4 separate regions of the Homo sapiens genome follow, and regions 2, 3 and 4 are each linked to region 1. The links come from fine-mapping of genetic effects on gene expression. A gene starts in region 1. Each other region holds a variant in brackets. All regions are shown on one strand. Distances are from middle to middle.

Region 1 (8,109 bases):
AGATCCCAAATTTAAAATGATCTAAAGGAAAAGATTTAGATGAAAAGTAAAATGTCCTTTTAGCATATGACTAATTAGATGCAGAATCTAAAATTTAGGCTTTAAAAATGATTCCAAAATTAAGAGAAACTAACACTGATATAACTGCAGGCACAGTATTGCTATTTCTTGTAAGTTGAGAGTCTGTAGAAGGCGAAATAAATATGCATAGCATTGTTCTATTGACAGTGTTTCAATGATAATGTTTGACACCAGAGTAGGTATTGTGCTGTTTCAGTCAGGCTTCTTATGGTGGCAGAAATCTCAACTTGGTTTAGACAAAGACAGCATTTGTTGGAAGGGTCTTGGAGTATCCCATGACATGAAAGGTAGAATTAAATAGCCAAACCACTAGAAGAGCAATCAGGAGCTCAACCCTCACCAGGAGTATTTCTCCCCATTTCTCGTTCCTGTCTTGCTCTGGTTCTTTATGCTTCTCTTGAATATCTACCTTATTCCACTTATCTGCAGACCGGTTTCTTCCTTCTGTGTGGCAAGAAGCATGGCTGTAGATTCCTGCATCATCTCACAATATGGGTCACTAGAGAGAACAAACTTTTTACCCACATTCCAGAAAGTTCTGGCTGGCTCGCATGGGTCTGGTGTCCACTCCTTGGCTCATCAGGTATGCCAGGTGGAGTCAGCGTGAGCCTGTAAGAGCTCCCCGCTCTCATCTGCACCCTAGTGCCAGGTGGGGTCAGTGTGAGCCTGTAAGAGCTCCCCACTCTCATCTGCACCCTAGTGCCAGGTGGGGTCAGTGTGAGCCTGTAAGAGCTCCCCGCTCTCATTTGCACCCTAGTGCCAGGTGGAGTCACTGTGAGTCTGTAAGAGCTCCCCGCTCTCATTTGCGCCCTAGTGCCAGGTGGAGTCACTGTGAGCCTGTAAGAGCTCCCCGCTCTCATTTGCGCCCTAGTGCCAGGTGGAGTCACTGTGAGTCTGTAAGAGCTCCCCGCTCTCATTTGCGCCCTAGTGCCAGGTGGGGTCAGTGTGAGCCTGTAAGAGCTCCCCGCTCTCATTTGCGCCCTAGTGCCAGGTGGAGTCACTGTGAGCCTGTAAGAGCTCCCCGCTCTCATTTGCGCCCTAGTGCCAGGTGGAGTCACTGTGAGCCTGTAAGAGCTCCCCCCTCTCATTTGCACCCTAGTGCCAGGTGGGGTCAGTGTGAGCCTGTAAGAGCTCCCCCCTCTCATCTGCGCCCTAGTGCCAGGTGGAGTCACTGTGAGCCTGTAAGAGCTCCCCCCTCTCATTTGCACCCTAGTGCCAGGTGGGGTCAGTGTGAGCCTGTAAGAGCTCCCCGCTCTCATTTGCGCCCTAGTGCCAGGTGGAGTCAGTGTGAGCCTGTAAGAGCTCCCCGCTCTCATTTGCACCCTAGTGCCAGGTGGGGTCAGTGTGAGCCTGTAAGAGCTCCCCGCTCTCATTTGCGCCCTAGTGCCAGGTGGGGTCACTGTGAGCCTGTAAGAGCTCCCCGCTCTCATTTGCGCCCTAGTGCCAGGTGCAGTCAGTGTGAGTCTGTAAGAGCTCCCCCCTCTCATCTGCACCCCAGGACCACAAGAGCTGTTCTCTCAGGTGGACAATAGAGAGATGGGATCAGAAGTCATTGCTTCCCTCAAGAAACTTAACTATCAGAGGATGAACCAAATGCTCATTAGATGATATTTAATATTAGTGAAGAAAAACTTGATAAAAACATGTCATGGGACTGCTGACTTAATGTTTGGTAAATTGCTGATTTAAAATACATTTCTTTACCTTTCTTTTCTGCAGTGGTTGGAGAAAAGGAAAAGATAGATAATGCTGTAAACGTGCGAACAAGAGACAACAAAATTCATGGAGAGATTTTAGTAACTTCTGCCATTGATAAACTGAAGAATCTCAGGAAGACACGGACACTCAATGCTGAGGAGGCCTTTTGAAGTCCTTCCCTGATATTTGCTTCTGTGTAACTTTGTTTTGACCCTTAAAAATGTATTTTTCTTAACATGTTAGTACTTCTACGACTTTGGAGCCACTGATGGGTCCACTCATGGCCTCAGCTGAGAAAGGAGACGATGAACGTGTAGCTGACATGCACGAAGTTTAATTTACTCATGTCCACGGGGGACGTTTAGAGGGCACGTGGGAAATTTTCCAGCAATCAATGCCTTGAGAAACTTAAATGGGGAAATATTATTCATCGAGAAAGTGAAACAAAACACTAGGAAATGATTATGAAATGTTAGTGATTTTCAAAAGATGGGCTTCAAATAAAAGTCTGCAGAGTTTTTTTTAAATAGGAGGGAAAATCTTATTTTCTAATATGTCTCAGGTATTTTTATGACTTCTACTAAAATTCACACTGAAACTTTATCTTCTAAACTGGAATCATTACTTAATTTTAACTAACCAACAACCACAAAAGCAGCAGCTACTGCTAAATATTGGATTACTGACAAAGGAATTCAGTTTTGTGGAATCTGGTGTTTGCACTATAGGTTAAGAGTTGCCATTTAAATGTTTCTTATTCATAATTAGGTTTTGTTCCGCTTTAGAAAAAAATAAATTCCCAAATGAATTGCATCAGTGTTTCCAGCGTTTCAGCTGTGGGCTTCTACCACCACTAAGCCGCTCACCTAGAGTTGTTACTTTTTTGATGGGATGACATTCCATGGATTTATGTACTGAAATGGATTTCAGATTTTAAAGAGAGGAATGCTCTACGTGCTCAGAACTGAATTAAAATGGCATTATGTCAATAGAGAATTCAGCTACCAAACAAGAAGTATTGTTTATTTTGCGATATGCTGTGAAATTCAAAAGAAATGTAAGAAATAATCTCTTTTCAATATACTGATCATTTAGTTAACTTCCTGAGGGATGTGAACAGTGAAACAGTTGGCAAACAAAACAATATATATCAGGCTTGTGTAGTAGTATAAGGTGCAGATTGTGTGATATGATTTTTATTATTTATTTTTTGAGACGGAGTCTCGCTCTGTCACCCAGGCTGGAGTGCAGTGGCGCGATCTCGGCTCACTACAACCTCCGCTTCCCGGGTTTAGGCGATTCTCCTGCCTCAGCTTCCCCAGTAGCTGGGACCACAGGCGCGTGCCTCCACGCCTGGCTAATTTTTTTGTATTTTTAGTAGAGACAGGGTTTCACCGTGTTGTTAGCCAGGATGGTTTCGATTTCCTAACCTCGTGATCCGCCCGCCTGGGCCTCCCAAAGTGCTGGGATTACAGACGTGATTCACCGCCCCCGGCCGTGATACGATTTTTAAAGCTAACATTCAGGGCTTATGTGCCGGCACTTTTCCATGTATTTTTTAAAAAGTCATTCAGCAAACATGCACGTGAGGGGGTGGTAGTCAGAAGACCGCGGAATGAACGATCCCGAAGCACGTGGGTGGGAGGAGAGCACCTGTCACCAGCGCTTTCTCCCAGGTGTGCTGTGACAGAAACCGGCAAGGGTCTCCGCAAGCTGGGGCCTGAGCGCGGCTCCCCAGACGGCCGCGACCTTCCCCAGGCAGGGCTGGGCTCTGGACCCTCCCCTCACTTCCCAGCGCCTCGGGCCATCCTGCTTCTCCAGGCCTGAGAGGAACTTTCTGGAAGTGCTGCGTATCTTCAAGAGGCCGGCCAGAAGTGAAAGCCGCGGCAGGCCTGAGCGCCGGCCCCAGGGGAGGGGTCCCTCGGGCCCTCGTCGTCCCGGGGCCGCTTCCCCGACTGTAAATAAGTGTCTTTAGGATGAAACGCCACGCGATAGTGTCCTCGGAACCTTCGCACGAGATCCAGCACACAACATCCGACCACACACTGGGGCGGCCAGCCTCCCGCGTTCGCCCGCCTCTGCTCTTGGTTGCTTCGGGCGCGCATTTCGGTCCACGGATGACCTTTAACAGGTCTCCTGCAGTGGAACCAGGGGTGAGGGCCTCGTCCAAGGGCGTGAGGGGCGCGTGGAAATGGAACAACCTCCCAGGCTCGCATCCTCCTCGGGGACCTCCCAGAAGGCTCAACCGGAAGAAAACCCGCGACCCGCGCGAGGACAGCGAAAGCGCAAACGCCGGCCGCCAGGAGTCGCAGCGCGCCTGCGTCCAGTTCACGCTCCGGCTCCCAGGCGCGCCCCGCCCCCCGGCCCGGAAGTGCGCAGGCGCTGGCAAGATGGCGGGAGGGGTGCTCCCGCTGAGGGGCCTCCGCGCCTTGTGTCGCGTGCTGCTCTTCCTCTCGCAGTTCTGCATTCTGTCGGGCGGTGGTGAGTCAAAGGCTGGGTTCAGCGCCGGGTGGGGCTGAGTGGCAGCAGGGCCCCGGGAGCTGCGAGGAGGCCGGGCCCACGGGCGGACGCTGACGCGGGGAGGAGGCCGAGTGCCGGGCTCCGGGCCGCTTGTCGCTGCATCTGGAGTCTGGCGCCCTGGCCGCCCGGCCCGAGGCCGCCCCTCCGCTCCGGCGACACCGAGCCCGCCATCGCGGCTGCGGAGCCCTGGCACGGAGATGGAGCGCTTGGGGGCTGGGCCGGGGAGGCGGAACTGGAGCGCGATGTCATCCTTCGGTCCCTCGTTGCCGGCTGACCTGAACTGATGTCTACTCTGTTGACGTTTCGTCCCTAAGCTTTGTGTTTTCTGGCTGACCAGCCGTGAGGTTTTCATGAGCAGCTTATTGGCCTGGTGTAGACCCGCCGTGTTAACCACACAAAATAAGGTTTTCTTGTCCCGGGATAACGTGTTTCTCTAATTGTACGATCCTTAAATTTAGAGCAATCGCAGGCGCTGGCTCAGTCAATAAAGGATCCGGGCCCAACACGCACATTCACAGTAGTTCCCAGGGCAGCAGGTACTAGACGTTTTCTATTCTAGTAAATACATGTAGTTATCTCTAGTAGTTTCTCTTTGTTTTTATAAAAATTCCCTTTAGTATACGAAGTCACTTTCCATTTTTGAATATTTATTGTATTTTAGATTATGTGAATTAAGGGTAGATACACAGCCATTTTCAGTAGATAGTCTTCGTATTTATACCTTTTGACGTTTCTGCCTCCTCTCTTTTTCCAATCCCACGCTCATTTGTCACCTTATTTCTATTATTTTTCCACTTCATCCATCAAAATAACCTTCAGTCCGTGCTTCTTTCCCTTCAGCAAATTTCCTCTACTGCTAAAACCCTGTTCCTGATGTTGGAATATTAAAGGCTCCCTCAGGACTGTGGAAATGGAAGGATTACAGCGGGACTGATGGAGACTTGAAATCTAGATCTGGTTTTGCTACTGGGATCTTGAACAAATTATTTATCCTCTTTGGACCTTGGTCCTCATCTTTAAAGCGGTGGGGTTGGTCTGACGACCTAAAGTCATTTCTGCTTTGTGATTCTAAGTGTCCACCTTCCAGCCACATAGTCACGGGATCAAAAAGAGTATTTTGTAGAATTGTTCCTTAATACAGTGAGTAAAGTAGGACCAGTTTTAAACAAGCATTAGTGTGTTTTGCTAGGTGGAGGCTCTGACTATAATTTCATCACTTTAAAGTGACATTACTTCAGTGAATTGAAACTGGCAGAGATATTTTACTGATTCTTATTTGGATGTAAAAAACAGCAGTGCACTTGAATTTTAAACTCAGATTACTTTTTAGAGAAAGCACAAGAGTTCTTAACTCTTGCAGGCTTTTGAAAGCCCTTCTTTTCAGGAATACTTGCAATTTTGATCCTTTCAGTTGGTAAAAATACATTGCACACTCATTAGGTTGGTTGGAAATAAGTTGCAGCTTACTGAAGATGTTATTAAAGTAGAGAACTGTTTTGAACTTTGGTAGCGTAAAACTGTAAATATTATATTAGCAAATGTGGCTTATCGAAGTACCAGTGTGAAATAATGACATTTTAAAGTTGATGCCCTGAGGATGTCAGTGGCTTCATTTCTGAATTAGTGAATTCAGATGAAAAGAACACGGGATTGGAAATGGAGAGATTTGGGTTCTAGTTCCAGTTTTGCCACAGACTTCCTCTGTGATTTTGCAAAACCCTACTGTAAGTTTTTTTTCAACTTACAAAATGATAGTCTTTTTTTTAAGCCCTTAATGTATACCCAGAATTTTCTATACATTATTTGTATATGAGCACCTTTAGTTTTCACGGCCACGTGGGAGGCAGGAATGAAGTAATGTTTTACAAGTGTGGTGCTCACCAGGTCCCACAGCTGGCCGTGGGCAGAATTCTGCTTTAATTGCAGGTGTCTCTGACTCCAGTCCCATGCTTCTTCCCTTCCAGTGCAGTGTCTACTTGCTAATGATCACGTCTCTTAACCTTAGAAGATTGTTCTCTGTTATTCGAATCAGTATTATAGGAGAATAAGCTTCTCTCTTGCCTCTCACAGAAAGTACTGAAATCCCACCTTATGTGATGAAGTGTCCGAGCAATGGTTTGTGTAGCAGGCTTCCTGCAGACTGTATAGACTGCACAACAAATTTCTCCTGTACCTATGGGAAGCCTGTCACTTTTGACTGTGCAGTGAAACCATCTGTTACCTGTGTTGTAAGTACTGCAGCTTACTTATTCTAAATAAATTCATTGTAAACTTTAAGTTAGAAGAACAATTCAGACTTGATTATTGGGAAGAAATTCTGAAGAATTTTTATATTCTTTTATGATTTCCCTTTTGAGTATGTAAGCAGAAATAAATTAAAAAACCCAATAGACCTTTCCATATCAGCTCACTACTGTTTTAGTTATAATGATAACTGTCAAGCCAGTTGATGTCTGCTGGAAATGCACTTGACAGAAATGTTGCTTTGTAGGACTGGAGAAGATCTCAGTCTACTAGCATATCTGAAGCAAGTCTAATTCGTTCAGATGGATTCTGTGTTCTCAATAGTGACAGCTAGTGTACAGAGGGGGTGGCAGTGTCTTTCTGCCATAGATGAGCTTTTGAAGGGCCAGTGCTTATCTGTGGTGAGAAGATGGATTCAGTAAATGCCGGAATGCCTGGTAGCTCTCTAGAACAAAATTAAGTGGAACGCCTGTCTTATCCAGAATAAATTCCAGATAGTCCAAAGATGTAATGTGAAAAATGAAACCCTGAAGTACCACAGAAAACACCAGATAGTTGCTGTTATAATCCCAAAATGGAGAATATTTTTCTAAGTATGAAATAAAGTTTAGAAGCCATAAAATAAAGAATTGATACATTTGACTCCTAAAAATTGGAGATTTCTGCATGACCTAAAAAAAAAAGCATAAAGGCAAAAGACATGGCAAACTAGGAAAAAGCGTTTCTAGAATATGTGACAAATAATACAGTAATATCAGTAATATATAAACACTTCCTAAAACCCACACGGAAAAGATGACAGTCTTGTAGAAAAACAGTGTTAGGACATGAGCAGATGGTTCATAGGAAAGGAAATACAAATAGATATATAACATGAAAAACATATAAGTTTTCTCATAGTATTTAATTAATACATTTTTAACCCTTAGATTGGCAATTTTTTTTTAATTTGATTAACTCTGAGTTTGTGAGAGTATAAGGGTCAGATGCTCATATCTTATTAATAGGTAATCAAATTGATCAACCTCTTGTAGGCGATTTGCCATATCTGTTAAACTTACACATGCACACAATCGTTGAGCTCGTAGTTGTACATGTAGGAATTTATGTTATAGATATCATTATACATGGATGCAGATAAGTGTGCTTATTTTTTAGCTGCATTGCTCATTAAAGCAAAAGATTCAAAAGAAGTGAAATGTCTAAGAACTGCTTAATTTATGGTACACGTGTAATAGAATAAACACCTTGTAGCCATTAAAAAGAACTAGGCAGCTCTAGAGGTAATGTACTGATAGATGTCCAAAATTAAGTGAAAGTATTGGGGAACATTAAATGTAGGTGACATAAATGTGCCTATGTGTAGAATCAGCTCTCTCTGGAAGCACAGAGCGTACTTGGCCTGGGGAGGGCAGGGGCTCCCGGCGGCTGGGCCAGACGAGGCCGGCTCACTTCTCACTCTCCTGTTGTGTCTTGACATGTGTTCCATGTACATGTGTCACCTACTTTTTAAAAAACCATTAAAAAAAGTGTGTTTTAAGCACATCACTGAAAATAGGCAGATGT
Region 2 (8,109 bases), 140 kb before region 1:
ATTTCCTACTCACCACAGTGGTTTTTAGTCTTCGAATGTAAACGTGAGGCCTGGGATAATCTGTCATCTTGTGACCAAGAGACAACAAACGGGAGAGAAAAACCGTTCCAAAATGCAAATACTAGCATGTACCTGGCCATGGAGCTATTACTAGTGGATGTATAACTGGGACTTCTTATATGACATAGGTAAACTCTCTATTGGTGAGCCTTCTTAAACTTGGGTTTTCTTTTTCTTGGAGCCATCCACAATAAGAAATGTATTTTATGTTATGACCAAATAGTGAGCCATAATCCTTATTTGAAAAACATTGTCCTAAGAATAAAGATTATTTAAGCTTTTTACTGTTTTTTTTTGTTTTCTGCACATTATACTGCATTTTATTTGAGCTATGTAAACAAGGCAATATTCCCATTTAAATCACTTGTTAAAAAGACTTCTCAGCACTGAACTCCATACAAATCTTAGCACCATCTAAGTCAGCTACTCTTTGCTAAAATCCCCCTACTGTTTGTATTGAAGATTCTGTTTCACTCTGCTTTTTCTACTCTGTAGTCTTTTTTTAATTATTATTTTTGTAGAGATGGGGGTCTGGGTTGCCCAGGCTGGTCTCAAACTCCTGATCTCAGGTGATCCTCCCAACAACACCTCCTAAAGCTCTGGGTTTACAGGCATGAACCACCATGCCTGGCCCACTTTGTATTCTTTCTGATGATTATCCTTCATCCTGCTGTCCTCTAACTGTAGCTCCCTCAAGGTATTTTACTTTTAAAATTTATGACCAGGACCTTTATTGAGAAATGCATTTTACATCACAAGTTACCACACACATAGGGGTAATGTTTGGTTTTCAGCTATATTTTCACAATTCGATTTTTCTCTGAAAAAATAACTGTTATGTGGATAAAACAACTAAATTCCTATCAGATGTCAGCCCCTTTGTGTGCTAGAGCCCACTGCCTTGCATCATCTGAGAACTTATTTATTTTGGACAATTATCCAATCTCTTTCCTGCATCGTTAATTTCTTACCTTCTACAGGATTATGCCCTAAATTTCATTCTGTTACACTCATGGAAAGAAGAAGAAACTGGAGATGGAGGAGAGGGAGGAGGGGGAACTATGTCTGCAGCTCTACTCTAGTTCTCTGCTACCCTTAAAAGTAAAACTTCTAGAGAGAGCCATCTATAGTCGCATTCTCTACGTCATCACCTGGATTCTCTCCTAAGACCACCCTAACCGAGCTTCCGTTTTCACTGCCTTTATGAACGTTTGTTAAGCTACGTGCAGTGAAATCCAAAGGTCGCTCTTCTATTCTTGTCCGAAATGTCTTAGAAGTGTTCAGTGAAGTTTATCACTTGCTTCTATGATGAAGGCTTTCTTCTCCTGGTTTCAGAAACCCCATCGTCTCCTTGCATCTCCTTTGTCACTGAAACTCTCTTACTGTCTCCTCGGCTCAATCATGGTATGCCCCTGGGCCCTTTCCTGGTCCTGTACTCCTTTCTATATAGAGGTAAAGCATTTTTTTTTTTTTTTTTTTTTTTTTTGAGACGGAGTCTTGCTCTTTCGCCCAGGCTGGAGTGCAGTGGCGCGATCTCGGCTCACTGCAAGCTCCGCCTCCCGGGTTCACGCCATTCTCCTGCCTCAGCCTCCCAAGTAGCTGGGACTACAGGCGCCCGCCACTACGCCCGGCTAATTTTTTGTATTTTTAGTAGAGACGGGGTTTCACCGTTTTAGCCGGGATGGTCTCGATCTCCTGACCTCGTGATCCGCCCGCCTCGGCCTCCCAAAGTGCTGGGATTACAGGCGTGAGCCACCGCGCCCGGCCGGTAAAGCATTTTAAACCCATCTAATCCCTGGGCTTTAACCAGTATCTGTATAAATAGGACTTTCAATTCTATATGTCTCATTCTGAACTCTTTTGGACTATGATTTGTGTAATCACATACGGACTTGATATCTCCACATAATACAGAATATTGGAGGTACATATTGCCTAATGATGATCTTCTTTGTCCACTTCATTTCCTGAAACTGAAATGTAGAGAGGTTGAATAACTTAACCGGTTTCCTATTGCTAGTCAGAGGCACAGTAGATATGCCTTCAAAACAGCGCTATCAGCTACTCCTTAGTAGGACCAAAAAATTAAAAAGCACATAATGCATGTATTAAATACTAACAAGCAAGAGTGTAAGATTTCTTTCTGTTTGTTAGGAAGCTTCAGTGTCGGATAAAGCTGTGCTGGACAGACTCCTGTAAATTCAAGCCCTGTGGTGGGGCTCTTTATGTCCCATGCTGAGTATGGCAGCCGAGGCATAACTGCATTTCTTTTAAGCTTTCCCCCAAAATTCAATCTGATTTTTACATTTTTATCTTTTCTCTCCCTGCTGGTAGGTTTCACTGGACTGATATAGATTTACATATTCCCCAATCTGATTATATTCCAGTTTATTGATTAAAAATTCCCACTGTGATATTGTTATTACAAAGTGAGGCATAAGTTTTTAGTGAATTATCACTTTTGCAGATAGTGATCACTTGATGGGAGGCTCTCTTTCAATTACCCCATCAAATAGTTATTGTTTATTTAGAGCTTGCTGAGAGTCAGATCATTTACGTAAATTTCTAAATCCCCAAGACTCAAAGCTGATTTCCAAAAATATTTGACTTTAACAGTATAGTTTCTTCAACTGAACTGTCTTTATTTACAAGCCTTTTAAGGATCAAGAGGAATTGCAGGTTTTGACACTCAGCATGTGAAGGCTTATATTAACTATTAAAGAATGAATTTCCTACAGAATATTTTTTCTCAACTGGGTCTTCATGCAATAATGTTAATTATCAAGATAAACGATCCAAAATGAGATGAAAGCTAAACATCAAAATACTGAACAATTTCTCCATGATCATGGGGATGACTCCATTAAAGCAAATTGCAGCTAAATGCAGGGCAGCAAGAAGGGAAACAGGGCAACAAGGAGATACATTATCTGTATCAACAACAAAGCTCTAAAGCCAAAATATTTAAGAGAAGTACGAATGGTCCGGCTTTGGGAAATAAACCAAATGTCAACAGTTTGCTATCACAATGATCATGAATGCCAGGTACTTTGAATACTTAGCATTTTGCATGCCAGATAGTTTACTGGGCAACACCGGTTACAGCAGTGTAGGCTGTACAGTGAATGGCTGCTGGTTTTCTTTTCCCCTGTAACAACATACCGCTACAGTAACTCTGCATGCTTTCATTTCAGTAACCTCTAGAGGTCCTTTATTACAAGGTATCAGAGCACTAAAAAGATTTCTGGGACTTCACTGAGTTCAAAAAACAGATGCATATGACAATTTCTGTAATTGTTAGCAGATACTTTTTTACATGGGGCAGGTTTTGGCTACAGCTACTTTTATTATAAAAACAGAAGATTTTCAAGGAAGAAACCTAATGCCCTCATTTTATGTTATCAATTTTAGAAAGAAATAACAATTAAGCATCAGTCAATTACCTTCACTTGGGAGAGGGAAGAAGAAAGCATAGCCCTCAGACAGACTGGGGAGGCAGGAGAGAATTATGCAAAACAGGAGGTTTACTAAGGTCCTACAGATACATGCCTGGGTTCTTCCAAAAATGCCTTCACCACTCTCAGATATTGGGCTTAGGATTCTAAAGTATTGAGCTCAGTTCTTGTGGCAACAGGACGTAAGATTCTAAACAGTCTTGGTTTGAAATGGAATAAGATTATGTGGAATTGCTTTAACAAGGCATGTGTACAAGTTGTTCTTCACTGCCAACCCTTTCCCTCCACTTTTGCTTCCTAAGATGTAAAGCCGTGGTTTCCTGAAGTGATTTTTTGCATAGGTGTGCCTAAATATTGTGGAACACAACAGCATTTGCTCATTATTAAATGTGTCAGATTCACTATCTTCTACTGTTTATTTTCAATGCTACATTTGTTCCTGTGTCCTTGCTCCACAGTTTGTGAGTATACTTCCTGGTTACAATTTACTAGTTAAAAGTAAAGTTGGCCTGGCATGGTGGCTCACACCTGTAATCCTAGCACTTTGGGAGGCTGAGGCGGGCAGATCACGAGGTCAGGAGATTGAGACCATCCTGGCTAACACAGTGAAACCCCGTCTTTACTAAAAACACAAAAAATTAGCCGGGCGCAGTGGCAGGCACCTGTAGTCCCAGCTACTCGGGAGGCTGAGGCAGGAGAAAGGCATGAACTCAGGAGGCAGAGCTTGCAGTGAGCCGAGATCGTGACACTGCACTCCAGCCTGGGTGACAGAGCGAGACTCCATCTCAAAAAAAAAAAAAGTTAGAGGAAGCACTAATGGTACTATTTTTACTACAATTAGAAAGACAGGTACTCATTTCCTTCACACTCAAAAAGAAAATTGGTTTTATGATTTTGTGGCAAGGCTTGATCTACGGATGGAGTATAACTTTTCTGTAATCACTGTATATTAGTTTTCCAACCTCAGCAGATATTTTTTCTGAATATATTTGAATAATTTCTCATACTCTTCCTGTCTTCTTCACTTTGTTGAAACAGATCAAGCCCAAGTATTTTTGGGTTGTCTACCAATTCCAATAGAGAGCCTTGATTTGGGATTAGGTTACTCTGAAATATTTTCCAAAGTAACTCAATTTTACAGAATCAAAGTGTACTTGTGGCTCATTTTATAGCTATGGAGAATATGTATTTCTAATTTCTACTTTAGAGGGTTTTTTTTTTAACCATCACAACTAGGAATTTTAATTCTTTGTCTGAAAAATTATACTGTACGTATTTCCCTCAAAACCATTTGGTAC[A/G]AAGTACTGCCCATTAGAAGCAAGCTGAACATTTTGAATATATATTATTCATCTCATACAGGATGACCTTGCTCAGTAGGTCATAATTTGAAGATCTATTATGACTGTGATTAATAGGACTTCTCCCGACCAGTATCTGAAATAAATGCAAATGGCCACTGTAACACAATTACTTGGTTTCCATTTTAAAGTCTTTCCACTTAGAAACTAAGTTATACATAGAGGTTACACATCTCAGTCTGGCTGACAGACTCTCAGGTGGGTGGGCCTATTACAATCTATGCAAACAGGAAGACCAGGTCACTCATTAAACCATGGTCAATATAAATGGTGCAACGGGTTTTGTCCCAAGGACCGATGGCTAGATAATTTGACAAAAGGACAGAGAAGGATGGTGAAAAAAAAAAAAAAAAAAAAAAAACACAGATCAATGGCTATTAATTTGAAAGCAACACATATCCTAGAAAGAAACAGTTTATGCTGTTATTTAGAATAATTACCATTTTCAATTAGCTGACATTTCACATAGCTTTGGGACTATAGCAAGGCAATAACCCTCAACATCTAATCTCAGCCCTGCCTTTTGTCAATGATCTCCTGATACCGCTTCAAAGGCAAACCCAATACTTTGTGAGCAATGGCTTTCTTTGTCATAAATAGCAAGTAGTGCACAGAGTTCAAAGGAAGTTCAAGTGATATACACACTAAGGCAAAATATCTCATGTTAAAATTTCCCTGAGTACGTGAATATTTTTTTCCTGGCCATTTCCTTAATGAGCATATACTTCCAATGCAATAGAGCAGTAATTTTATTGTATTATGATGACACTATAAAAACATAAAGGAATTAAAAGTTCCAATGTAGATTTCTATCCCATCAGTGTCAATATAAAATTTACATAGCTTTTTAAAGCTAAATTATAAACTTAATTATTCATATCATTTTAAGATACTGTTTGGAATTTGAAAGTATAATATGATACATAGTTTAAAATAAATTAGCCATTTCCTATTTGAAAAATAAAATTCTCAATCTGTTAAGAGAACACATCATGATACTGATGAGAATCACTTGTGTTGAAATGCTTATTTGGTCAGCACACCAGACCATTAGTCCAAAAGCACAGGACTAAGTCTTGTCTATTCTGCGGCCCATGCCATACATACTTAGTCACCTAGTCCTCTGCCTGGTAGAAGGCTTCAATCACTACACTGGAGCTGAAGAGAAACAGTGTCACCGAGTATAAATAAAAACACTGCAACCCATAACTCCTGAAACACAAAACTCAAAGTCTGTATCTTATTGGTTACTGGTTAGTTGTATCATCTGTATTGGGCATTGAGGTACTAGCAATAATTAAAAATATAAGCTTGCAAAAATATTATAAATGCATTAGACCTAATAAAGATCTAGACAATGGATGAAAATATGTGGTTTGTGCTGTCCAGACCACAATCCTTGGAATCTAGTTGTGAAATGCTGCTCTATTCCCCTTAATAATTTTTAGAAATATCATCAATATCTGTTTTTGACAATTTTTATTAAAGTGGCAAATGGTCGTTAATCATTTTTAGATCAGTTTTTCCATTAGATACCAGACAGAATTATCTAGGTATGAAAAGCCAATCATAAATAAGGTACTATTCAGTTAAACCGCTTTGTTCACACAGAGAATCATGCTATTAGTTTGCATACTTCTTAAGATTTTAATTTCACACTCTTCAGTGTCACAATTATATTGTCAATTAAGTGTGTCATTAGCAAAACTGGGAACCCTCAGACATAACATTTCCATTCAAGTCAAAATTTATACTGAGTTGATGTCTAAAATGCTTACACTTACAAGATCTATCTTATTATAGCTCGGATAGTGTATTCCACTTTTTTGTCACTCTATATAGTCATCTACAAATAAGCAACAAAATAAAGTCATTTAAAGACCAGAATTAAGTGTCTGTTAAACTTCTTAGGTGTTGTAAAGTATTCATCTATTGACCCTGCTCTCCTAGGCTCTGAACAAGTTGTTCTATTTGGGCAACTGGCAAGAGGTATTTGGATCTTCTGAATAGAATGCCCTAAGAGATTCATAAACCTTTCAGAAGAAGAAAGGGTCTCAATACTTATTGAAACACTGCACATGAACTAACTTACTTATGTTATCTTATTTAATCTTCATAACAACCTTACTAGCCTGAAATTCCCAGCAGACCAGGAGTAGCACTGGTTTTACTCAACTTGTATCTTAAAGCAGCCAGCCAAGTGGAAAGAGAACAAACTTCCAATAAATATTCCTAGAAAGAGAAGCGGATAGAAGTGAAAGGAAAGATTAAGATGATATTATTGTACTCATTTTAAGGTTGAAAAATCTAAAATAAATACAGAAGGAGTAATATGTCCAAGATCACACTGGAGGAAGTTATGGGCCTAGCATTTCATTCCTGATCTTTCAGAATCCCAAACCGATGGTTTCTGGGCAAAATACGCTTCCATTCATATATGTACCTTCGTTCGCATTTTTACAACAATACTTCATTCATGCTAGCCACCAGCTAAGAGGGTCCCAATTATCTGGAATCTAAGTCCAAAGGAACACAATGATTGAACAAATGAGCTGTCAAAATATTTCTGCATCACTCACTTTCTGTAAAAACAGAACCACCTATTGTGGCAAGTCTGGGAACAGGTGAGCCCTTATTTCACCCTCCAGCTCCACATTTCGAGTCTCCTTATGAGTCAAGCATGCAAATGCCTGAGCTTCTTCACTTTGATGTTCACATAGTGAATATCTAACACATAGACATTCACAGAAATCTTCACAAAAGTAAGTTTTTGAAGAAATAAATTTTTTTATGAAGTGTTATTTGAGCACTCTGGAGCATCATACAAATGTAGGACAGACCGAAGGGCTACATGCAGCTTAATTTGAGTTAACATTTTTTGAAATTTTATATTGCAAAAGTATACGTATTTACCGTTGTGAAATTAGAAAGGATAGGCAAAGAGGGCGGTCTACAAAGCACTCCCTAGATCCACCATACTGAGACAATGCTTAATGCTTTGATGAATTTATTTATTTTATACTTTCTATGCGTATGCATGTATTGTATACATACATGTTCATGGTTAAATATAAACAGTTCTCCTTGGTGTTCTGTTTATCCATTTATTGTTATGAAGTAAATCCCCAAAGAGTACATTTCCTTTGCCCGAGGGAGTCTTTTGCTACATACTGCTGTACATAATGAAAACTAAAAAAGGGGCTAACTTTTCAGCCTTGTGACGTTATGGTGATTCA
Region 3 (8,109 bases), 40 kb before region 1:
ATGTTACATGCATCCCTTGTTCACTTTGGGGTGGAGACAATGCATTTAAATTAGGCTGTATAACCAAAAGGTCAAATGGAGGACACGGAGGCATCCCATGTGCAGCCTTTATAAACCAACCAGAACCAGTGCATGGTGAGTGGTCTTTTAACAGGAAGAAATGCTGCTCAGTTGTGTAAATCAGTGGTGGAACAAGTCTTTCAAAAGGGCTTGTTTCTGATTAACTCTTAGGAAAGAAAGCCTAATGGTTGTTAGTGACAGAGTGGGTATAATTAGGCATGTCCAACCTCTTGTCACTGCCAGTAACTCAGTTTTTAAGGTTTCTCTGGGGTCCTTTGGCCAAGAGGGTGTCTGTTCAGTCAGTTGGGGAGCTTAGGATTTTATTTTTATTTCTCAGTTATAGCAGTACCTACATCCAGTGCAAAATTCTGTTCTGGATGGCTATTGCAACATAGCAAAGTATCCCAGAACTTAATAGTTTAAAACTGCCATTTCATCATTACTGTCTTTCATAGTTCCAAATTTTAGGCTCCTGTGGGTGGTTCTCGCATTGGGTCCCTTACATGACTGTATTCAGGTAGAGTCTCATGCCAGGGTTATTGATTGAAGAATGTCCCCTTCCCATCATAGAAAGACTAAAAACATCAGGCATTGGCAAGAATATGAAGCAAGTATAACACTTACTGCTGGTAGGAACGTAAAATGGTAGAACTACTTTGTAGCAGTTTGGCATTTCCTGTAAAGATAAACGTGCCCCACTTCTTTTTTTTTTTTTTTTTTTTTTTTTTTTTTGAGACAAAGTCTCGCTCTGTTGCCCAGGCTGGAGTGCCGTGACGCGATCTCAGCTCACTGCAAGCTCCGCCTCCTGGACTCATGCATTCTCCTGCCTCAGCCTCCCAAGTAGCTGGGACTACAGGCGCCTGCCACCACCATGCCTGGCTAATTTTTTTGTATTTTTAGCAGAGACCGTGTTAGCCAGGATGGTCTCAATCTCCTGACCTCGTGATCCACCCACCTCGGCCTCCCAAAGTGCTGGGATTATAGGCATGAGCCACCACCGCGCCCGGCCTTTTATTTTTTTATTTTATTTTTTTCCTAAGATGGAGTTTTGCCCTTGTCGCCCAGGCTGGAGTGCAATGGCATGATCTCAGCTCACCACAACCTCTGCCTCCCAGGTTCAAGTGATTCTCCTGCCTCAGCCTCCCAAGTAGCTGGGATTATAGGCATGCACCACCACACCCAGCTAATATTTTTGTATTTTTAGTACAGATGGGGTTTCTCCATGTTGGTCAGGCTGGTCTCAAACTCCCAACCTCAGGTGATTTGCCCGCCTCAGCCTCCCAAAGTGTTGGAATTACAGACGTGAGCCACCACGCCAGCCCCCACTTCTAATTATCCCAAGATAAATAAAAACATATGCCCGCATCTACACTGAGACTTGTATTTGGATGTTCATAGAAGCGTTACTTATAATAGCACAGAACCAGAAACAACCCCAGATTCAGCTTGTGAAAAGATAAACATAATGTGGAAAGTCCATGCTGTGGAATACAACTCAGCATTTACAAGCAGTGAGATACTGATATACACATGAAGGAGGAACCTCGAAAGCATCGTACTAAGCCAGATAAGTCAGAGAATGCATAAGGCACCATTCCATTATATGACATTTCAGAAATGCCAAAACTATAGTGACAGAAAGATGATCAGGAGTCCAGTGGGTGGGGAGAGGGGATTGACTCCAGGGGGTCAGGAGGGAACTTCCTGGAGGGTGGAAATGTTCTATATCTTGACTGTGGCAGAAGTCGCATGACTGTATACATTTGTCAACAGTCACTGAATTGTACACTTAAAATTGGTGAATTTTATGGCGTGTAAATTTTACCTCAAGCCATTTTGTGGTAAAATACACATAATATAAAAATTTACCATTTTAACTATTTTTAAGTATGCAATTCATTCTCACTAAGTACATTCATGTTATTATGCAACTGTCATGGTCCATCTCCAGAACTCTTTCCACGTTGCAAATCCGAAACTCGCCAGGACTTTGTCATCATCCTACACTTAATCTCTGTACCCACTAAACACTAATTTCCATGCCTGCCTCCCCCAGCCTCTGGTAACCACCACTCTAGTTTCTGTCGCTATGAAATTGACTATTTCTAGGTGTCACATATAAATGGGTTCATAGGCTATTTGACCTTTTGTAATAAAACTATCTTTTTAAAAGTCTCCTTTGGTGTTGACATAGGCAAGCTAGCTTTCTTACATTAGTGTTTGCATGATATATCTTTTCCTATCCTTTTATTTTCTGCCTCTGTTTCTATATTTAAAGTACGTTGCTGGAGAAAAGAATACTGTTGGGTCTTGATATTTTTCAGTCTATCTGCCTGTGTCTTTTTTCCTCTCTGCCCTCTTCCATGTGCCTCAAGGTCCTCCCTGAGGTTCCAGTTGGTTCTGTTAGTCACCAGCCAGTAGAGGGTGTGCTTGTGGGACAGACTCTCAGTCACAGCTGGGCTGCCTCAGGGGCCATGGTCTGGTCCAATATCAGTAGCCTTTGCCTTGGTGCTGAGTCCTAGACCAGTCAGTAGTAGCCAGAGTGCTGGGGATACATGGTGCTGAGCACGATGGAATATATGGCCGCATTCTACCAGGAAGCATCCTTTTCCTCAGAACTGGAACTGCTGCATTTCTGTGGAAGGGATGTAGGAGGCCAGGATGGGCTGGGTGTGCACACTGCTCCCACTGAGGGAAATTTCAGGATTTCTGAGTTTTTGACTCAGGTAAAATGACTTCCACTTAGGTTTAAGTAAAGGCAAGTGAACTTTTGTTTGTATATTAGTTACTGACTGTGTGGACAACTGATAGTGAATAAATAGATCTTTTTGTTAGTCTCCTTGAATTTTTTTTTCCCTGCATTCTGGAAAATATCTGTCAGCTGATTCTGTACTTTTCTTACCTTTTTTTAAATTAACTTTTTTAATTGTCATGCAGTAAAATGTACGCCTTTTTGATAACATGCAGAACTGTGTTATCACCTCAGCAATCAAGATACAGAACAGTTCCGTCACCCCTCAAAACTCCCTCATGCTACCCTTTTAAAATCAAATCCTCCCCAGCCCTGACCTCAGGGAACGGCTGATTTTTTCTCTACCCCTAAAATATTGGCATATAAATGGAATCATACTTTTATAAAACCTTTAGAGACTGACCGCTTTCACCCAGCATAACACCCTGGAGATGCATCCGAGTTGAGTGTCCCCAGCGGGCCTCTGCTTTTGTCCCTGGGCAGTATTCCATCATATGAACATACCACTGCTTCAGATCCATCCTGCAGTTGAGGGGCATTTGGGTTGTTTTCAGCTTTTGGCAGTTATGAAAACTGCTATTGTCATTCAT[G/A]TACAGTTTTTTGTATGAACATAGGTTTTCATTTTACTAGAGTAAATACCTAGGAGTGTGATTTCAGGGTCATATGGTGATATGGTTTGGCTGTGTCCACACCCAAATCTCACCTTGAATTGTAGTAATCCCCAAGGGTCAGGGGTGGGGCCAGGCGGAGATAATTGAATCGTGGGGGTGGTTTCCCCCATACTGTTCTTGTGGTGGTGAATAAGTCTCTTGAGATCTGATGATTTTATAAAAGGGAGTTCCCCCGCACAAAGTCCCTTGCCTGCTGCCATTTAAGATGTGCCTTTGCTTCTCCTTTGCCTTCCACCGTGATTGTGAGGCCCCCCCACCAGCCATGCTGAACTGTGAGTCCATTAAACCTCTTTCCTTCATAAATTACCCAGTCTTGGGTTTGTCTTTATTAGCAGTGTGAGAATAGATATGGTAAATTTAAGTTTATAAGAAAATGCCAAACTATTTTCCAAAATGACTACTGTTTTGCATTCCCACCAGCTGTGCATGAGGGTTGCTTTTGTAAAGCTCATCTCAGTCACACCTTTTGCATTTCCTGGAATCTGCCTGACTTGTTGATGCATGTCTTGAAACCCTGGAGTGGGGAGGGGAGTGGCTTCTCTTGTTGTTATATTAATAACCCACTTGGGGAATTTTTGCTTCCTCTTCACACAACCTTAGATGGAGTGAATTTCTAGACCAAGCTTGTCTTTGTGAACATGGCAGGCCTCAAAACATTCAGCTCTTCTGCAGGGAGAGTCCTGAAAGATGCACTCCAAGGGTTTAACTGAAGAGAGTCTAGTGAAGGAAGTATTTATGGAGATATGGGCCTGGCTAAGGTAACTAACAAGGGATGATAGAGCGCCCAGGGATTACCAATAGCAAGAATCCCTTCCCCTCCATCACTAGGCCTGCAGAAGTGAGGAGATGGAGTAGTAATACTAGAACCCACAGAGAGCTTGGAGCCATGGAGGAGAGAAGTGAGGAGATGGAGTAGTAATACCAGAACCCACAGAGAGCTTGGAGCCATGGAGGAGAGAAGTGAGGAGATGGAGTAGTAATACCAGAACCCACAGAGAGCTTGGAGCCGTGGAGGAGAGAAGTGAGGAGATGGAGTAGTAATACCAGAACCCACAGAGAGCTTGGAGCCGTGGAGGAGAGAAGTGAGGAGATGGAGTAGTAATACCAGAACCCACAGAGAGCTTGGAGCCGTGGAGGAGAGAAGTGAGGAGATGGAGTAGTAATACCAGAACCCACAGAGAGCTTGGAGCCGTGGAGGAGAGAAGTGAGGAGATGGAGTAGTAATACCAGAACCCACAGAGAGCTTGGAGCCGTGGAGGAGAGGCCACACAACAGAAGCTGTAACTGTGGAACACAGCCAGAACCTGAGTAAACCCACAGCAGGGAGAACCAGGGAAAGAAATATCCAGACCTCTCTCTTCCACTACCCTGTGAATCCTTTGGAACTTCCCATTGGTCAGACCCAATCAGAAACCATATGGAAAGTATATTGGCATGTCAGGATTCTCCACAGAAACAGAACCAACAAGATACATAGAAAAGAAGAGATTTATTATGAGGAATTGGCTTGTGTGATTATGGAGGCCAAGAAATCCCATGATCTGAGGGTCCAAGAAAGTTGGAGATGTAATTCTCGCCTGAGTGCAGAGGCCTGAGAACCAGGGGAGCTGATGAATCTAAAAAAAGGAGAGAGCTCAGGTACATACACAGAGAATTAAACAGTGCTTACCATGGTCAGGGGTTGGGGGGAAGAAATGGGGGGATATAGATCAAAGGATACAAAATAGATATCTAGGATCAACAAGGCCAGAGATCTAATACAGAACATGAGGACTAAAGTTAACAAAATTATATTTATCAGGGAGTTTTGTTAAGTAATTAGATTTTAACTGCTCTTGTCACACACACAAAAAAGGTAACTCTTTTACTATTTGTGTCCTATAACATCATGTTGTGAATCTCAAATATGTGAAATAAAATTTATTGAAGAAAATTTAAAAGGCTGGGCATAGTGACTCACTCTTGTAATCCCAGCACTTTGGGAGGCTGAGAGGGGTGGATCGCTTGAAGCCAGGAGTTCGAGACCAGCCTGGCCAACATGGTGAAACCCTGTGTCTACTAAAAATACAAAAATTAGCCAGGCGTAGTGGTGCACATTTGTGATCTCAGCTACTTGGGAGGCTGAGGCAGGAGAATTGCTTGAACCCAGGAGGTAGAGGCTGCAGTGAGCCAAGATTGTGCCACTGCACTCCAGCCTGGGCAAGAGAGCAACACTCTGTTTCAAAAATATATATATATATATATAAATACTGAGGTAATAGTTCTAAGACTGATACCCATTGGCCGGGCGCAGTGGCTCATGCCTGTAATCCCAGCACTTTGGGAGGCTGAGGCGGGTGGATCATGAGGTCAGGAGATCAAGACCATCCTGGCTAATACGGTGAAACCCCATCTCTACTAAAAATGCAAAAAAATTAGCCAGGCGTGGTGGTGGGCGCCTGTAGTCCCAGCTACTCGGGAGGCTGAGGCAGGAGAATGGTGTGAACCCAGGAGACGAAGCTTGCAGTGAGCTGAGATCACGCCACTTCACTCCAGCCTGTGTGACAGAGCGAGACTCCATTTCAAAAAAAAAGATTGATACCCATTAAATAATTTTCATTGCTGAAGGAAATGTGAGGAAACAGTTATCATATACTTAGAGAGAAAGTTTAAATTGCTACTAATCTGGTAACAAATATTAATGTGAAAAAAATGCACACTCCTAGCAATATTCTTAGAAAGGAATCTAAAATATACAATTAAAATCACATAGAAAAAAACTTTACTGCAGAATAGTTTGTAGTATTCAAAAATGAAAAGTCTAATGTTTCTCAATAGTAGAAGGATTAAATACTTTGTGACATGTCCACACAATAAAGCACTATGCAGTTAGTACAAAAATACATCTATGCATACTAACTTGAAGGGGGTTCAGTATACCTCACCATTGAAAACTGGAAGTGACAGAGTAAATGTATAGTGTATCCTTTCTTTTTATAGGTAAAAGCAAAAAACAACAAAATCCTGTATGTGTGTTTTGTGTTTGCACAGTCATGGAGGAGAGGGTTGAAATACAGGAACAGCAGGCCATTAGCATTATCTCAGGGCAGTAAAGGGTGGAATGAGAGAAAATGTTCAGGTTTTCTTTATACACCTTATTTTTTTCCACATGAAACATAATTTAAGCATGTTGTATTATACTATTGTGTTTAAAAGTATATATTTTATAAAATAAAAAAATAATAATCACAGCAAGTAAGCCTTGTGCGGAGCCCACAGAAGTCAGCTTTGGGGAACACAGTGCAGGGCAGAGAAGGAAGGAAAATGGGCCAAGATGAGGCGAGACAGGCAGTGGCAAATGGAAAATAACCAGCCTGGCTCACCCCCTGTGCCTCTCAGCACATTCTTGCCTTTTGCTTGGAGGACACTGAGGACATTGGTTTCCTCCCACAAACTCCGATCAGCCGATGTGTCATCATGTGGTGATGTCATTTCAGTTTCACCTAAATCTGAATCGTGCCATTGGCCACCATGAGTGCCCTTCATGTAAGAATGCAAGGAAAAGTCATAACTAAATGTAACTGTTTCAGCCTCTGTAGATGGACGCTAGGGCCAAGCTGATACATCAGAGCCTTCTTTTCCCATCACTCATTCCACATTCGCCTTATCCTGGTGGCACCCCAGATGGGCATTGTTTTATTTGGTGGGTGCATTAGTTTCCTAGGGTATTATAACAAAATACCATAAACTAGGTGACTTAAAACAACAGAAATTTATTATCTCCCAGTTTTGGAGGCCAGAAGTGTGAAATCAAGGTGTTGACGAGGCTGTGTTCCCTCTAAAACCCATGGGGGAATCCTTCCTTGCCTTCTCCTAGCTACTGTTGGTTGCCAGTCATCTTTAGTGTTCCTTGGCTTGTTGAAGCGTCATTCCCATCCTCTGTCTTCACGTGATGTTCTCCCTGCGTGTCTTCACATTGTCTTCCCCTTGTGTGCATCTGTCTCTGTGTCCAGATTTCTCCTTTTTATAAAGAGACCAGCCATATAGTATTAGGATCTACCCTAATGATCTCATTTTAATTTGATTACCTCTATAAAGACCCTACTTCCAAATAAGGACACATTCTGAAGTACTAGGAGTTAGGACTTCAAAATATCTTATTTGGAGAATACAGTTAAACCAATAATAGTGGATGGCCTCAGTCTGTCCTTAGGATCCAAGGTTTTAGTAATGCTCTTTGTGGGGTTTCAGGGCTCCCACTGATGGTTGTTGCTAGATGTGTTGATATCAAAGGCTCCCCACTGAATTCCAGACACAGTCCTCCTTACTCCATTGTAAGCAATACGACTTCTCCCAGTAATTGCGATCAAGGGTAGTAAGTCTTTCCCCAAGTAATTGGGATCAAGGGTAGTAAGTCCTTTTCTGTCTATCAGTTCTATAGTAAAGGGAGCCCATAATGGGCAATGGACAATCTCAACTCCCAAGCATGTCTCAGTTTTTGGTGAAAACATACTTTGGGCACCAAAACATGTTATCGAAAGATTCCAAAGCTCCAAGGATAAAGAAAATATCCTGAATGTTTCCAGAGAGAAAAAAGCCACAGACATAGGACTGGGTATCTGAATGGCATTGAAATTTTCAGTGGAA
Region 4 (8,109 bases), 31 kb before region 1:
TTCTTAATGACATCATTTTGTTAAACATTTTCTTTCTTTTTTTGAGATGGAGTCTAGCTTTGTTGCCCAGGCTGGAGTGCAATGGCGTGACCTTGGCTCACTGCAACCTCTGCCTCCTGGGTTCAAGCGATTCTCCTGCTTCAGCCTCCTGAGTAGCTGGGATTACAGGTGTGTGCCACCACGCCTGGCTAATTTTTGTATTTTTAGTGGAGATGGGGTTTCATCATGTTAGCCAGGCTGGTCTCAAACTCCTGACCTCAGGTGATGCACTTACCTTGGCCTCCCAAAGTGCTGGGATTACAGGCGTGAGCCACCACACCCTACCTGTTAAGGTTTTCTAATTTAGTAAAAACAAAGGATAGGTAAAGCAGCTCACTGAATGGCCGAGACCTAAGCTGTCTACCGTGGACTGCCAGGATGCCCTGCTGAAGAATAACAGACAACATTCCTTTCAGTTGTATAAAACCATTGTTAGTAATCTTAAAATGTTATGTTTTATGTTTTTTTAGCTGTGAAAACAGTTTTTCAAATGTGCTCAAAGTATACATGGCATTCTAGATTTGGGCCAGATGTCCATTAAGTGGTTTACAAATGTTGAGAATCTAAGGATTCTCAGAATTCTTACTTATTCAGCTTTTTGTGTTCATCCAAATTAAAACTGTCATGCAAAGGGTCCCTATCAAATTACTGTCAAAACAATTTGACCTAATTGACATTTGTAAAACAACAGCAGAATATGCATTTTTGGAAAGTGCACATAAAATATTTACCCAACAAAGATCACCTAATTGTTTTGTTTTTAAAGAAAGTTTAAATAAAGTTAAAACTTTGCTTGGAAAAAAACTCTCTTCTCCTGTCTCCAGTAATTCAATTAGGGAAGCTGTTAATAGGTAGGGAGGGAGAGAGGCCAGCTCATGACTTAATAATTTCAACTACTTAAATCGTTATACACTAAAATTCTTATTTCTGTTTAAAACTAAATAAATCAAAATTATAACATGCAACATGGCATTCAGGCTTATTAAATTATAAATTTTTTCTGCCTCTTAATAGGAAAAAACCTGTTTAGAAGGACTTTGGAGTAGTTACAGTGAGTTTCTATATATATTGTATTTCAATTACTACTTTTCAAAGAACTAAAACATTATATACTATATACTGTTATATGCTATAAAATAAATATACTCAATAGAAATTATACTAAGCATATGTAAATCTTTCTTCCAAGATCCAGAAACCACCACACCTAAAACTGAGGGTACATTAATCATGAATTAATATAGGACATGAGCCCAATTTGAAAATATTTGCTCATAGTGTTACTTTGCATGGAATTGTGATCTGCCCTAGCAGATTTTAATGTTGAATGCATGTATCTTGAAGGAGGAATATCACAAACGGGACTTCACGGAGGTGCTCTCTCCCAATATGTACAACAGTAAACTCTGGGAAGCCTCAGGCCACTGGCAGCATTACAGCGAGAACATGTTTACCTTTGAGATTGAAAAGGACACTTTTGCCCTCAAACCCATGAATTGTCCAGGGCACTGGTGAGTATTAAAAGCGAAGCAGACCTTTTCATGAGAGCACATAGCACGCTTCGTCACAATTATCTTTTAATGCTTTGTGGAATGAAAGAGTCCCTTTAATCTGAAGAGTGGTGATTACTAATTTTTACTAAGTTGTTTCATTCCGGAGAATGGATTTACTTTTGAAAATATATTTGATCTTTGGCAGGTATGGGATGTTAGCTGGTAACCATTGCATTTTTTTGTGCTGATTAAAGGATAATGTTATGTGTCAATTTTATAAGTTTTATAATATTTGTCTTTCTTATAGTAATGCACTTCACATGTTCATATTTGCAGAATATTTAGTTCTTTCATACTGTTTGGGTGGATTATAACAAGATCAATGAGGTCATAATCAATGGGTTTCTGGATTTCACTGATTCCAAGATACCATTTTTCTTCCACATTTCAACATTTCTGAAGTTGAAATGCATCTTATAGTTGGTGGCATCTTAGCATTATATCATAATTTAATTAATAGGTTATTTTCTTTCTTTGTAGCACATAAAATGAAGATACATTTTACAATCAATGCTGTCTTTGATTCTATGAAAGACTAATTATCATAAAGTTGGTATGCAAATTCAACCTTGTAAGACAAACATATTGTACAACTGAAACTGAATAGGCATAATTGTCCACAAAAAACAATCCCAACAATTGTAGTTTTTGTATTATCAACATACATAGTTTCAAGTAAATTTACCTAGAAGATAATTATTAAAACCGGTAACTGAACACTGAAGAAAGCTCTTTGCCCTTTTAAGTGAAGATGAGAAGAAATTTAACTTTATGATGATGTCATGTAAAAAATATATATAACTTTAATTTTAGGAACACCGGTATGTAAACATTCTGTATCCTCTCTTTCTAAACAGAAGGTAGAAGCTATGCTAGTGTTTTGCATTGTAAAACACTTGTGTTAACAATTTCTTAACTCATCTTCTCAAAGGCATCCTTTAAAATTATAGCCTCGTACTTTATAATGAAAGTAGAGAATTTAAGTTTGTCTTTTTACACCTCAGAATAAGAAAGCAAGACCACGGTGGCTTAGAGGCAATGGGATATGGAAGCTAGGAGTGCTTTCTGCAGGAGAGAAGTCTTTCATTCAACAGAGAACATAGTTGAGTGCTTTTTGTGCTTGGAGCTAGAAGTGCAGAGGTGATTAAGACACAAACCATTCCCTCATGGAACTCATGAGCAGAGTGGGCAGGGCCATGCATGTAGACAATCTGTTATAAAAAGACCAGTGCCATAATGATGGCATGTTTGAGGTGTTCCAGGAACGTGAGGAGAAACTGCCTAGCCCTGTCTGGGAAATGTCTAGGAGGGCTTCATTTAAGAAGTAGCCTTTGAAATGAATCATAAACAGTAAATGGTGATTCACTGTGTGGATAAGGGGAGGGAACAGCATTTCTGGGAAGAGATAATAGACAAGCATCTTTCTCAGAGTGCTGCAGTGATGTAAATGCAAGGTTCACTAATTTGTGGAAGAATTTTTTTTTTAACCTGGTGATCTAAGAACTAGAATAAGGAGTTTATGAATCTTGAGGCTTAATTGTAATTTCTTTATATTTAGATAATTATTTAATATTTCTGTGCTGTGTAAAAGCTGTGTGTTACCACATCTTTTCTAGTCTAATGTTTGCCCATCGTCCACGATCTTGGAGGGAAATGCCTATTAGATTTGCTGATTTTGGAGTTCTGCATAGAAATGAACTGTCGGGGACTCTCAGCGGCTTGACCAGAGTGAGGCGCTTCCAGCAGGACGATGCTCACATTTTTTGCACAGTGGAGCAGGTAAACAATAACACAGAGTGAAGCAGTGTGGTCACAAATTGAGTGTGATGCCCCGCACACATCTTGTATTCTTTCAGAGTTACTGAAACATAGACGTTTGGTCTAGTCTCTGAGATTCATTCAGCTCTAACCTGCTGTGATTCTCTAAATTAGGTCAATAGATTAATCATCTCTTGACATGAAATATATTCCTTCAGTGATTTTATTAACCTAAATTCCATTAAGTGGAGTATTTTAAGGGATTTGGTGGAATTCTGGATGTTTTGTTTTTCAGTATCGCCTAGAACTTAAAATTTACTTTTTCAAGTTTTTGTGTTAATTCAAGTTAAAATTGCCATGCAAAGTTTCACTGTCAAACAATTTGACCTAATTGATGTTTATATAACAACAGCAGAATATACATTCTTTGGTTTCATGTTGGATGGGTAATGTGCCAGTGTTGTATCCAATGTGCTTCATGTGGGGTGGGTAATATGCCAATGTTGTACCGAGGTGTGAGGGAGGTACATCTTACACATGTGTGTACACCCAGTCATCACGCTTATGAACTACAAAAAGCTCAGAGTATTTGTTCTTTGAAATTGCAC[G/A]TAGAATATTTACTAAAATAGACCATATTCTGGACCATAAAACAAGTCTCAGTGAGTTGAAAGGGATGCAATTAAAATAAAATGTTTAATTAACCCTAATGTTTAACCCTAATCCTAACTGACCACAATAGAATTAAAAATAGATAACACAAAATCCAAAGGAAAATTAGACAATTTTATATAACAAATGAAATAAAAACACATCAAAATTTGTAGGATGCGATTTAAGTGGTAGAGGGATGTTTATAGCACTGAATACCTGCATTAGAAAAGAAAAATCAATGACTTAGCTTTTACTTAAGATAGAAAAAGAAGAACAAATTACACCCAATGTAATGGAAGCAAAAGAAAGAAAATAAGAAAGAGCAGAGCAGAAATCACTGAAATAGAAAATAAAGAGTAAAAATAAAACAAAAGCTGGTTCTCTGAGAAGATCAATAAAATTGATAAACCTTTAGTCAGACTGATGAGGGAAAAAAGACAAATAAAAATGTCAGGAATGAGACAGATGTCATCACTACAGATTCTGTAGCTGTTAAAAAGATAAGGCAGTTTTATGAATAACTTTATGCTCATACATTTGACAGCTTAGATGAAATGGATAAATCTTTGAAAGACAAAACTATTAAACTTTACTCAAGAAGAAGTAGATCATCTGAATAGCCCTGTGTCTACTACAGAAATTGAATTGATAGTTAAAAACCTTCCTACACAGAAAACTCCAGGCCAAGATGGTTTTACTGGTGAATTCTACCAAACATTAAAGAAGGAATAATACCAATCTAGAGATACTCTTCCAGAAAATTGAAGAGGAGGAAATCTTCACCACCTCATGAAGCTAATGAAGCTAATATTGCTGTGATAGAAAAATAAGACAAAGAAATTAAAAGAAAACTACTGAACATCTCTCATGAACATAAAATCAAAAAATTTAAACAACATTTTACTAAGTCAAATCTAGTAATTTTTTAAAAAGGACATCTTAATCAAATGGACTGAATCCCAGGAATGAAAAGGTAGTTTAACATTAGAAAATGAATCATTGTAATTCCCCACATTCACAAACTAAAAAAAAGAAAACAAACAAAAAGACAAAAAGCATATTATCTTCTCAGTAGATGCAGGGAAAAGTATTTGGCAAAATTCTACATCCATATCTCATAAAAACTCTCAAAACTAGGAATGGAAGGGAACTTTCTTAACCTGATAAAAGGCCTCTATGAAAAACCTACAGCTAACCTCATACTTAATAGTGAGAGTCTGAATGCTTTACTCTTAAAATCAGATATTAGGTAAGGATTATCTCATTACTTCTCTGATCATTGTACTGCAGGTTCTTTCTGATGCAGTAAGTTAAGAAAGAGAAATAAAAAACACCTAGATTGGAAAGAATTAAAACTCTTGTAAATGACATGATCATCTATGTAGAGATCAGATGGAATCTACAGAAAGCTATTAGAAGTAAGGTGAATTTAGAAAAATTGTAGTATGGAATATCAACATACAAAAATGAATTGTATATGCATTTCATAATAATAAACCCTTGGAAATTGCAAATAAGAAACAATTTGTAATAGCATCTCAAAACATATGATAGTACTTTGGGATAAGACTGACAAATATGTTGCTATGGACTGAATTGTGACTCCCAAAATTTATATGTTGAAGTCCTAACCCCCAATGTGATGGTGTTTGGAAATGGGGCTTTTGGGAAGTAATTAGGTGTAGATGAGATTATGAAGATGGAACCCTCATGATACGATTAGTGCCCTTTTAAGGAGATGCCAGAGGCTTTCTGATTCTCTCTGCCGTGTGAGGACACAGTGAGAAGTCAGCCGTTGGCAAACTAGGAAGAAAGCCCTCACCAGGGAACTGAATCAGCTGGCACATTGATCTTGGATTTCCCAGCCTGCAGAACTGTGAAGAATAAATGATTCTTATTTAAGCCACACAGCCTATGGATTTTTGTTCTGGCAGCCCAAGCTGAGTAATACATACATACACAACCTATACAGTGAAAACTTTAAAACATTGCTGAGATAAATTTAAAGAAGGCCTAAATAAATGAAATATACCTTGTTCGTGGTTTGGAAGACTAAATATTATTAAAATATCAGTTATCCCCAAGTTGATCTATAAAGTCAGTACAATCCCAGTCAATACCCAAGCAGACCTTTTTTCCCTGTAAGAGTTGACATGCTGATTCTAAAATTCGTATAGAAAGCACAAGAACCTAGAATAGCCAAAAGAACTTTGAAAGATAAAAACAAATTTGGAAGAGTCACTATGCTTGGTTTCAAGAATTATGAGAAACTACAGTAATCATGCTGGTCTAGATAGATAAATCAGCAAAACAGAGTCTAGAAATAGACACAAATATATGGACAACTGATTTTTAATTAAGATTCGAAGGCAATAAAATGGAGGAAAGGTAATATGTTCAACAAATGATGCTGGAATGATTGTGTATCCATATGCAAAACATGAGGTATGAGGATTCATACCTCATACCATATGAAAAAATTAAGATGAATCACAGGCCTAAATGTCAAACATAAAAATACAAAACTTCTAGAATAAAAATTGGGGAAAATCTTTGTAATTAGGTGATAGGTGATGATTTCTCAGATATGACACCAAAGGGCAATCCATAAAAGAAAAAAGTTGATAAATTGGATTCCTCAAAATTTAAAACTTCTGCTCTTCAAAAAATACTGATCATAGACAGGAAAGACAGGTTACAGACTGGGAGAAAATATTTGTGAGGCATATATCAAATAAAGGACTTGAATCCAGAATACTTAACAAATATTCAAACCTCAATAAGAAAACAGACAACCCAGTTAAACAATGAGCAAAAAAGACCTGCTTTGGGGAAGATGAAGCAGGTGCTTTCCCTTTCCTTCCCTCTAAGAACAAGTAAAAACCTTGGATATTACATATAAAACAAACACGAGACTCTGAAAGGTGTTGAGAAAAAGGGCACACTGGCTATGGACATCAGGACCTAAGAAACAACATGGTAGTGAGTTCCTTAGGTGTTTTTGTTTTGTTTTGTTTTGCCACATATATTCCAGACTTGGCAACCAACAGATGCCAACAGGCATCGATAAAACAGGCCAACAGAAGTCTGCTTGCTGTAGCCAAAGGACTAGGAAAGGGGCAGCCTAGAAAGATAGAAAAGTTTTAGACAATATCTACTCTATTTCAACCAGACACCACAGAAAAAACTGTGGCCCTTTATATGCCAGCTAAGGCTGATTGAGAAGCTTATATTTTAACTCTCAGCAGGCTCTAAATAAGTACCTCAATACCTGTTGGAATGGGTAAGAGAAGGCTTATTAGGAAGCTGGGAATTTTACTCCTGCATTAACAAGATCCCATCCCCCTCCCCCAACCCAGCAGTGTCAGTGAAGACTATGTGGGGAGCCTGGACTTTTGCCCTCCCCTGGAAGTAATGAGGTGCCTCTTCCAGTCCTGCTTGAGTAGTGTCAGAAGACGTCTAGTGGAAAGATAAGACTTTCTCACTGCCAATTGGTCATGAGGCCATGCTTTCTGTGTGCAGTAAAGGCCATGGAGGGGGGCTAGAACACCTGTGCAACCCAGAAGTAACGAGGAGCTCCTCTCCCCTTACTTCCTTTCTAAAAGGAGCTTGGACTGCTTTTCCCACTTGCCAGTAACTGTCCAGTACTGTCCTCCCTCTGCTGGAAGAGTGTCAGTGGAAGTCAGCTAAAACAACATTTAAGATCCAGAGGCTTACTATAAAACCGAAAATGTCCAGGTTTAAGAAATTGAAAATCACTCATCATGCTAAGAACAAGAAAAATCTCAACTTGAATTTAAAAAGACAATCTATGAACGGTAACACTGAAATAACAAAGATGTTACAATTATCTGCCAGAGATTTTAAAGCAACCACCATAAAAATGCAATTACTAACTAATGAGCAATTACTAACACACTTGAAACAAACAAAAATTACAAAGTCAGCGAAGAAACAGAAAATCTCAGGAAAGAAATAGAAGATATAAAGAAGAACCAAATGGAAATTTTGAACTGAGAAATATAATATTCAGTGAATAGATTCATGAGCAGAATGGTGAAGACAGACATAATGACAAGAACAGAAATTACACAATCTGAAAAACATA

Which allele goes with the higher level. Positions count from the first base shown, and alleles are read on the strand shown. Sizes are in standard deviations (SD) of each study's normalised expression.
For the expression in monocytes after LPS of the gene that starts at base 4,150 in region 1, A is the low allele of the variant in region 2 and G is the other (moderate effect, 0.51 SD a copy in Fairfax 2014).
In carriers of allele G in region 3, the expression in cerebellar hemisphere of the gene that starts at base 4,150 in region 1 tends to be higher than with A alone (moderate effect, 0.45 SD a copy in GTEx).
For the expression in sun-exposed skin of the gene that starts at base 4,150 in region 1, allele A in region 4 goes with a higher level than allele G (small effect, 0.37 SD a copy in GTEx).

Evidence for each region. PIP is the estimated chance that this variant, and not a neighbour inherited with it, causes the effect.
Region 2: its variant is the best candidate, but not a certain one, in a credible set for the expression of TM2D3 in monocytes after LPS (Fairfax 2014, PIP 0.80).
Region 3: its variant is the best candidate, but not a certain one, in a credible set for the expression of TM2D3 in cerebellar hemisphere (GTEx, PIP 0.83).
Region 4: its variant is the best candidate, but not a certain one, in a credible set for the expression of TM2D3 in sun-exposed skin (GTEx, PIP 0.52).

What each region holds. Positions count from the first base shown.
Region 1 is chr15:101,648,422-101,656,530 of GRCh38, reverse strand. It overlaps TM2D3 (TM2 domain containing 3), which reads left to right and starts at 4,150. Exons shown (of 6, transcript NM_078474.3): 1 at 4,150-4,260; 2 at 4,758-4,835; 3 at 6,370-6,527. The coding sequence starts at 4,170. TARS3 (threonyl-tRNA synthetase 3) reads left to right here. Exons shown (of 19, transcript NM_152334.3): 19 at 1,801-2,935. The coding sequence ends at 1,949. RefSeq lists enhancers at 2,856-3,746, 3,853-3,912 and silencers at 3,573-3,762, 4,003-4,562.
Region 2 is chr15:101,786,058-101,794,166 of GRCh38, reverse strand. No RefSeq gene overlaps it. Among named protein-coding and RNA genes, the nearest start is that of OR4F6, 13 kb to the left of the region's middle. The variant A/G (reference allele first, on the strand shown) is at 4,814.
Region 3 is chr15:101,688,894-101,697,002 of GRCh38, reverse strand. All of the region lies in intron 10 of TARS3 (threonyl-tRNA synthetase 3), which reads left to right. Among named protein-coding and RNA genes, the nearest start is that of TARS3, 32 kb to the left of the region's middle. The variant G/A (reference allele first, on the strand shown) is at 3,403.
Region 4 is chr15:101,679,337-101,687,445 of GRCh38, reverse strand. It overlaps TARS3 (threonyl-tRNA synthetase 3), which reads left to right. Exons shown (of 19, transcript NM_152334.3): 11 at 1,384-1,550; 12 at 3,209-3,371. LOC124903609 (small nucleolar RNA U13) reads right to left here and starts at 3,931; the gene lies at 3,830-3,931. The variant G/A (reference allele first, on the strand shown) is at 3,959.